Regions from separate parts of the Homo sapiens genome. Here all the other regions are linked to region 2. The links come from fine-mapping of genetic effects on gene expression. A gene starts in region 2. Each other region holds a variant in brackets. All regions are shown on one strand. Distances are between the middles of the regions.

Region 1 (2,764 bases), 160 kb before region 2:
ACAGAGTGTTGGGAACAGGCCCCCAAAAATCTGGCCATAAACTGGCCCCAAAACTGGCCATAAGCAAAATCTCTGCAGCACTGTGACATGTTCATGATGGCCATAACGCCCAGGCTGGAAGGTTGTGGGTTTACCGGAATGAGAGCAAGGAACACCTGGCCTGCCCAGGGCAGAAAACCGCTTAAAGGCATTCTTAAACCACAAACAGTAGCATGAGCGATCTCTGCCTTAAGGGCATATTCCTGCTGCAAATAACTAGCCAGACCCACCCCTTTATTTCGGCCCACCCCTTCGTTTCCCATAAGGGATACTTTTAGTTAATCGAATATCTATAGAAACAATGCTAATGACTGGCTTGCTGTTAATAAATATGTGGGTAAATCTCTGTTCGGGGCTTTCAGCTCTGAAGGCTGTGAGACCCCTCATTTCCCACTTCACACCTCTATATTTCTGCATGTGTGTCTTTTTTTCCTTTTTTTTTTTTTTATTGATCATATTTGGGTGTTTCTCGCAGAGGGGGATTTGGCAGGGTCATAGGACAATAGTGGAGGGAAGGTCAGCAGATAAACAAGTGAACAAAGGTCTCTGGTTTTCCTAGGCAGAGGACCCTGCGGCCTTCCGCAGTGTTTGTGTCCCTGGGTACTTGAGATTAGGGAGTGGTGATGACTCTTAACGAGCATGCTGCCTTCAAGCATCTGTTTAACAAAGCACATCTTGCACCGCCCTTAATCCATTTAACCCTGAGTGGACACAGCACATGTTTCAGAGAGCACAGGGTTGGGGGTAAGGTCAAAGATCAACAGGATCCCAAGGCAGAAGAATTTTTCTTAGTACAGAACAAAATGGCGTCTCCCATGTCTACTTCTTACTACACAGACATAGCAACAATCTGATTTCTCTATCTTTTCCCCACATTTCCCCCTTTACTATTCGACAAGACCGTCATCGTCATCATGGCCCGTTCTCAATGAGCTGTTGGGTACACCTACCAGACGGGGTGGCAGCCGGGCAGAGGGGCTCCTCACTTCCCAGAAGGGGCGGCAGGGCAGAGGCGCCCCCCACCTCCCTCCTGGACGGAGCGGCTGGCCGGGCGGGGGCTGCCCCCCTACCTCCCTCCCGGACGGGGCGGCTGGCGGGGCGGGGGCTG[C/G]CCCCCCACCTCCCTCCCGGTCGGGTCGGCTGGCCGGGCGGGGGCTGCCCCCCGCCTCCCTCCCAGACAGGGCGGCTGCCGGATGGAGACGTTCCTCACTTCCCAGACGGGGCAGCTGCTGGGCAGAGGGGCTCCTCACTTCTCAGACGGGGCGGCTGCCGGGCGGAGGGGCTCCTCACTTCTCAGATGGGGCGGCTGTCGGGCAGAGGGGCTCCTCACTTCAGACGGGGCGGCCGGGCAGAGACGCTCCTCACCTCCCAGATGGGGTCTCGGCCGGGCAGAGGCGCTCCTCACATCCCAGATGGGGCGGCGGGGCAGAGGCACTCCCCACATCTCAGACGATTGGCGGCCAGGCAGAGATGATCCTCACTTCCTAGACATGATGGCCAGGAAGAGGCACTCCTCACTTCCCAGGCTGGGCAGCCGGGCAGAGGGGCTCCTCACATCCCAGACGATGGGCGGCCAGGCAGAGACGCTCACTTCCCAGACCGGGTGGCGGCCGGGCAGAGGCTACAATCTCGGCACTTTGGGAGGCCAAGGCAGGCGGCTGGGAGGTGGAGGTTGTAGCTAGCCGAGATCAAGCCACTGCACTCCAGCCTGGGCAACATTGAGCACTGAGTGAACGAGACTCCATCTGCAATCCCGGCACCTTGGGAGGCCGAGGCTGGCAGATCACTCGTGGTTAGGAGCTGGAGACCAGCCCGGCCAACACAGCGAAACCCCGTTTCCACCAAAAAAAATATACGAAAACCAGTCAGGCGTGGCGGCGCGCGCCTGCAATCACAGGCACTGGGCAGGCTGAGGCAGGAGAATCAGGCAGGGAGGTTGCAGTGAGCCGAGATGGCAGCAGTACAGTCCAGTTTCGGCTCGGCATCAGAGGGAGACTGTGGAAAGAGAGGGAGAGGGAGACTGTGGGGAGAGCAAGAGGGAGACCGTGGGGAGAGCAAGAGGGAGAGGGAGAGGGAGAGGGCATGTGTGTCTTTAATTCCTCTAGCGCCGCTGGGTTAGGGTCTCCCCAGCCAAGCTGGTCTTGGCAACAGAATTTCACCATGTTGGCCAGGATGGTCTTGATCTCCTGACCTCATGATCTGCCTGCCTCTGCTGGGCAGGGTGGCTCACTCCTGTAATCTCTTTATCTTCTTATAAGGACGCCAGTCCTATTGGATTAGGACCCCACACTTAGGATGTCATTTAACCTTAATTACCTCCTGACAGTTCCCATTTACAAATACAGTCACTTTGGGGGTTACAGCTTTAACCTATGAATTTTGGGAGGACATAATTCAGCCCATCACAGCTTCCCTTGGAAATGTTACCTGGAGGCCTGGGGTTGGTTCATCAGTGTAAAGTGACTGGAGATTCTGATTTAGATGAATTCAGAGACAGGAGGAAAGGACGTGAGTTGGGGCTTCAAATACTTTTGCCTTCACTTCACCCCTTCTCAATTCAAAGTTGGACCATATTATCTGTCCATCTAAAACCACCCAGCTTAATCCTTCTCAGTGGGTTAGGAACACAGCATTTTTTTTTTTTTTTTTTTTGAGACAGAGTCTCGCTCTGTCACCCAGGCTGGAGTGCAGTGGTGCAATCTCAGCTCACTGCAAGCTCCGCCTCCCA
Region 2 (2,764 bases):
GGTATGCATTAGCTATTTTTCCTGATATTAGCCTGATATATATATTTCCTGATATTAGCCTGGCATGCATTAGCTATTTTTCCTGATGCTCTCCCCTCATCTGCCCTCCCCAACAGGCCCCAGTATGTGTTGTTCCCCTCCCTGTGTCCATGTGTTTCATGGTTCAGTTCCCACTTATAAGTGAGAACATGTGGTGTTTGGTTTTCTGTTCCTGCATTACTTTGCTAAGGATAACGGCTTCCAGTTCCATCCATGTCCCTGCAAAGGACATGATTTCATTCTGTATAGCTGCATAATATTCCACGGTGTATATGTACCACATTTTCTTTATCCAGCCTATCATTGATGGGCATTTTGGTTGCTAACCATGCACAACTTTTAACTGACTTGTAGCTCATTGAAGGAGTCGGTCCTGGCACACTCTACCTTACTATCACTGTCAGCCTTTTCTCCTTCCTTCCTGACCTTCCCTCCTCCCATCCCATACTTCCCTTTTCACCTTGAGGAGCTACGGGAAGTACTAGGTGGTATGAAAGAGAGTGAGGAGAAGATAGAGTCCCTGTCCTAATGGTCAGTGTATGCTTTTTATGGGAAAACAAGATAGATAGCACCTGGCAACATTTGTCAACATTTCCTTCAAAAATCTTTAAATATTTTTCACTAAGACTTAGAAAAAAAGTTTTATACGAAAGCATAACAAAGGCAAAAGGTGAAGTAAAAATAACAGTCATCACCCAGAATGCTAAGGAGACCTTAATCTAAACCAGGAAATTGGAAGGGCGATTAGAATATGCTGTGTCTTCATTAAAGTTGCTCTGTTAATTAGTTGACACATGGTTATGCTTTCCAGTGGGATGAAGTGAAACTCCCAAGTGTGTTTTGTATTGTTGGTGTTTTTATATTTCTCAGCCATCCCCCAATCACATTTTAGGGTTATTACTAGATTGACTTCCCCCAAATAAAGTGTCTGCTGAGTGGGAGGATGGAACATTCTAAACTCAATATTCCAGAGCCTAGAATCTAATTGTTTCTGCCACTCACGGTGTGGCCTTGGGCAAGTCCCTTATTCTGTCTGTGCCTTCATTTCCTTCCCAGTCCAGAGAGGGCAGTTTGATTTGATAATTTTAAAGGTGCCTTTTACCAAAATTTTGTGATTTCTTGAAAATGATGTTTGCGAGTCACCCACACCTTTGGGGATGAGAGACTAATAGCAGATACCCTCAGAGATTGGGATGGAGATTACTGAGCTTTCTTATATATGCCATTGGTTGTCATTTATACTCTTCTGAGGTTTTCAGAACAGGAAAATAGGTGGGGTTAACTCTGCCCGTGAGAAACATCTTGAGCGAACTATGATTTCAGTTGAAAGATGTGTTTTTGTGAGTAGAGCACCGCAGAAGAACTGAAGACTGTTGTGTGCTCCCCGCAGAAGGGGCTACCATGATCCTTTCCTCCTGTGAGTAAGATGGGCTTTGTCATTTATTTTTGGGGCTTGTTCTGGGGCCTGTTATTCTTGAACAGCAGAGGAAGTTTTTTTTTTCCAAGGCATAGAGCTTGGGGACATTAAAAGATAATTTCCTCAGATGTTGTGACAGAGTTTTGTTTCTTATTTAAAGAACCACAGTGATGATGTAATTCTAATAAAGGTTCAGCATTGAGAACATAAATGAAAGAAAAACAGAAAGAGTGTCCAGAAATCTGCATATGTGTGTGTAGAAATGCAATCAGTATGAAGTACTTGTTTTTAGAATGAGACTGTAATGAGCTCTGGGCTGAAGGCCAGGAGACCAAGTTCTAGTTCTGGATTTGCTCCAGCAGTGGTGGATCACAGTGGGCAACTTTATATATATATAAATACACACACATACACACACACACAAATAAATATCTATATTTAAGGCAAAAGGAAGAGAAGTCAAAACACAACTGTGTTTATACTCTGAAATTATCTGCTTTATCAAGTAAACATATAGACTTAACCTTTATTTTCACAGGGGTATTTATTCACAATTCTATGTAGACTTCCGTTATCGAGGACCTTTCCCAAGCAATTGAAATTTAGGCAAAACTGATTCTTATCTGCAGTCAGAGCCTGAGTAAAGGCCAAAATAAGAGTCAAAGTCACGAGTCTCTACCTGGTTAAAAGTGTGAACATGGTCAAGTGTGAACACTGGCTCAAATGTCTCTTTCCCTCATATATAATACTACATATGAAGATGTTATTTTAATATTTTTATAGAATATAAGACCATCATTAAAAATAAGTGCTTGTTTTAGGAGAACAGAGAAAGATTCCCTAGACACTGTTATCTGTGAAGATCCTTGGTTTGAAAGAGCTGTGGGGGATGCTTATAAATCCAAAGAAATTAGAATAAAAAAAAAAACCAAGCAGAATAGTCTTCTAAATAAGAAGGCAGCCGTCATATCAGAATTGCAATGTGTTTGTTTCTTTATAAAGGTATTTATTGAGCACCTACTATGGGCCATGGTCTATACCAGTTCCTTTATATTCATTATCTGAAATCTTCACTACAAACTGGCAAGGTGAAAATTGTTATTCTTATCTAGCCAATAAGAAAATTGTGCCTTTGAAAGTTTAAATCTTGCCAGAAACTCATATGGTTGTCAGACGCAGGATTTAAGTATGAGACTTTTTTTTTTTTTTTAGACAGAGTCTTGCTCTGTCACCCAGGCTGGAGTGCAGTGGCACGATCTCAGCTCACTGCAACCTCCACCTCCTGGGTTCAAGTGGTTCTCCTGCCTC
Region 3 (2,764 bases), 39 kb before region 2:
AACCTCTCTGTGCCTGTTTCCTCTCTTAAAAAATGGGAATAATAACAATAATAGTACTCATTTCATGGGGTTGTTGTGAGGATTAACTGATGTGATATATAAATAGCTTTGACATATAATCAGAGCAAGGTAAGTGGTAGTTGCTATTATTACTATTGCTATTCTCTTACTACTGCTGCTGCTATTAATATTACACCTAATATTACACCTACCACCTGGATCTAGAAGTAAGATAAATTTAAACCTTCTTCTTAAGTATGTTTAATGCATATATAATGGAAATTTAGCAGAGAACCATTCCTACCACACTTCTTTTTTTTTTTTTCCTTTGAGATGGAGTCTTCCTTTGTCACCCAGGCTGGAGTGCAGTGGTATGATCTCAGCTCACTGAGACCTCCACTTCCCAGGTTCAAGCGATTCTCATGCCTCAGCCACCCAAGTAGCTGGGATTATAGGCATATACCACCATGCCTGGCTAATTTTTGTATTTTTAGTAGAGACAGGGTTTCACCATGTTGGCCAGGCTGGTCTCGAACTCCTGGCCTCAAGTGATCTGCCTGCCTCAGCCTCCCAAAGTACTGAGATTACAGTCGTGAGCCACTGCACCGGGCCTCCTACCACAGCTTTGATGGCTATTAGACATGCTAGGGATTGACAGCATTGGGGAGCTGTGGCTGTCATGATTCTGGACCCAGCATTAGGATTTTTGCTGTCCAAGAAAGAGAGATTCACTCTGCAAGTTTTGGGTTGCTTTTAAGAATGATAATACAAGTAGAACAGAACGCATTCCATCCCTGAACTACTAAAATTGTTGAGATGAATAAATATGAGAAAAGTTTGAAAACAATCTGAAAAATTAATCAAGAAGGGATAAGCTTGAGCTTTATACAATTTAAAGCAGCATGATTTAAAAGGTGAAAAATACCCTCTCTTATTATAACTTAAGTATAACTAAGAAAGTATAGATCCTAGTTTCACATTTTCATAGTGAAATTTTACATTAGGTTCAGATGCAAAGTGAAAACAATAAAAGTAGAAGTAGACATTTTCAAAAGACACTGGGAGAAGAAAGTAGGACGGATGGAGAGAATGGTGGGGAATCCACACCAGCTGCCTAGATGGGATGGTTGCTCCTTCATGCTTTTCTAGATGAGTCATTCTGATGGCAGCTGGGAGATCCCCAGGAGCTGGCATGTCTTCCCTGGGCTTCAAACCCAGATCTGTCTACCTTTTGTCTGTGCTGTTTCTCCTACACCACACTATTAAGTCTATGGAATAAATGAATGAGTGGATGGAAGATATAAATAGGAGGGTGGGTAACTACCAGTGGGTAGTGTTACTGAGGGAGAGTATTCCCTCCTTGTTTAAATGGTTTCTGCACTTGAAGTTTGCAAAGCTCTTCCCTCCCAACAGCCTCTGCTGTGGTAGGATG[A/G]CTCAGCACAAGAATTAAGGCAGAGAGAAACACAGCTCCCTGGATCCTTCTCCCCAAGAGGCCAACATTGTGTGATCTGAGGTTTGCTCAGGGAGATACTGGCCCACAAATACCTCTTCAGCCTGAGATGCCAAAACAGGGTGCTATTCCTAGAAACTTCTCGTAGAAATACAAATGCCCCAAGTTAGCTAGGTAATATATCAAGCTAGTTTTAGTTATCGAAACTCTGAATTTGGATTAGGTTTTTTTTGGTGGGGGGAGGCGGTTAGCTAGTCTAACAAACTTTAAGGAAGTTTCACAGGCTCACGGTACTGACACGAGATGAGTTTTGTGGGGAAGTTAGACTGCTTGGAGTCTGGAAAGGCAGATTCCAGGAGGGGAATAGTCAAGGGATATTTGGGGGTTAAATATCCTACTCATATGACTTAACCTCAGCCACTTTGGTTTTGTCATTTGAAAAAAGAGGATTCTAACACTAAGAAAGAACTGGATTGCTGTATGGATGATATGAGGCAGTGCATATAAAGTGCTTAGCCCAATTGTGGGGACTCAGTAAATTATTATAATAAATTAAATTGTTATTACAATACACCACAGGTTTCTGGAAGGTCCAAGGCCCTAGCAGTCTTTTCCAGACATCTCAATGTCAATTCAGAATGACTAGTTCACGGTGCATAGTTCCTTCTGTACAGAGTTGGTTGTGTGGGCAAGCCTGCATAAATGTGAAAATCATGGAGCAAATGAGGAAACACATCTCTTCACATCTCCTTTAGCACTTTATCGCTCTGATATCATGGCTCACTTTCTGTCTTGTAATAAGGTATTTCTATATTTGTCTTAGAAACAGGCTTCATGTCCGATTCATTTTTGTGTCTTATGCAGTTCCAGCAAGGTGCGAATGGTATATAGCATCATTTGTTCTATGGTGTTCACATTACTATTACAGTGCATTTCTGGCTGGTTACCGTGGCTCTCACACCTGTAATCCTAGCACTTTGGAGGCTCAGGTGGGAAGATCACTTGAGCCGAGGGGGTTCCAGGTTGTAGTGAGCTGTAATTCCACCCCTGCCATCCAGCATGGGCAACAGAGCAAGACCCCATCTCTAAGAAAAAAAAAAAAAGTACATTCCTTTGATTTAAATGAATAAGAAGGAATTCTCTATTGAATATGGTCAGTGATAACCATTTATCAATGAAAGAGCTATTTGGTTTTCAATCCAGTGGGTGTGGACGTGACAAAGGGAGGTTTCTAGCCATGTATTAACTTTTTAGCCAGTCTAAACAGATTTCTGCCTTGTGACTGACCATGAAGAATAAAATGAAAAAATTTCT

Direction of the effects. Positions count from the first base shown, and alleles are read on the strand shown. Sizes are in standard deviations (SD) of each study's normalised expression. Not every link is listed here.
In carriers of allele C in region 1, the expression in neutrophils of the gene that starts at base 1,361 in region 2 tends to be higher than with G alone (large effect, 0.81 SD a copy in BLUEPRINT).

Evidence for each region.
Region 1: its variant is fine-mapped to the expression of TXK in neutrophils (BLUEPRINT, PIP 0.95).
Region 3: its variant is fine-mapped to the expression of TXK in monocytes (Quach 2016, PIP 0.95).

The regions. Positions count from the first base shown.
Region 1 is chr4:48,291,068-48,293,831 of GRCh38, reverse strand. LOC105374445 (a long non-coding RNA gene) reads right to left here. Exons shown (of 2, transcript XR_007058111.1): 2 at 806-2,031. Among named protein-coding and RNA genes, the nearest start is that of TEC, 23 kb to the right of the region's middle. RefSeq lists an enhancer at 1,491-2,486. The variant C/G (reference allele first, on the strand shown) is at 1,148.
Region 2 is chr4:48,132,847-48,135,610 of GRCh38, reverse strand. TXK (TXK tyrosine kinase) reads left to right here and starts at 1,361. Exons shown (of 15, transcript NM_003328.3): 1 at 1,361-1,456. The coding sequence starts at 1,441. RefSeq lists a silencer at 1,625-1,919.
Region 3 is chr4:48,172,225-48,174,988 of GRCh38, reverse strand. All of the region lies in intron 3 of TEC (tec protein tyrosine kinase), which reads left to right. Among named protein-coding and RNA genes, the nearest start is that of TXK, 39 kb to the right of the region's middle. The variant A/G (reference allele first, on the strand shown) is at 1,433.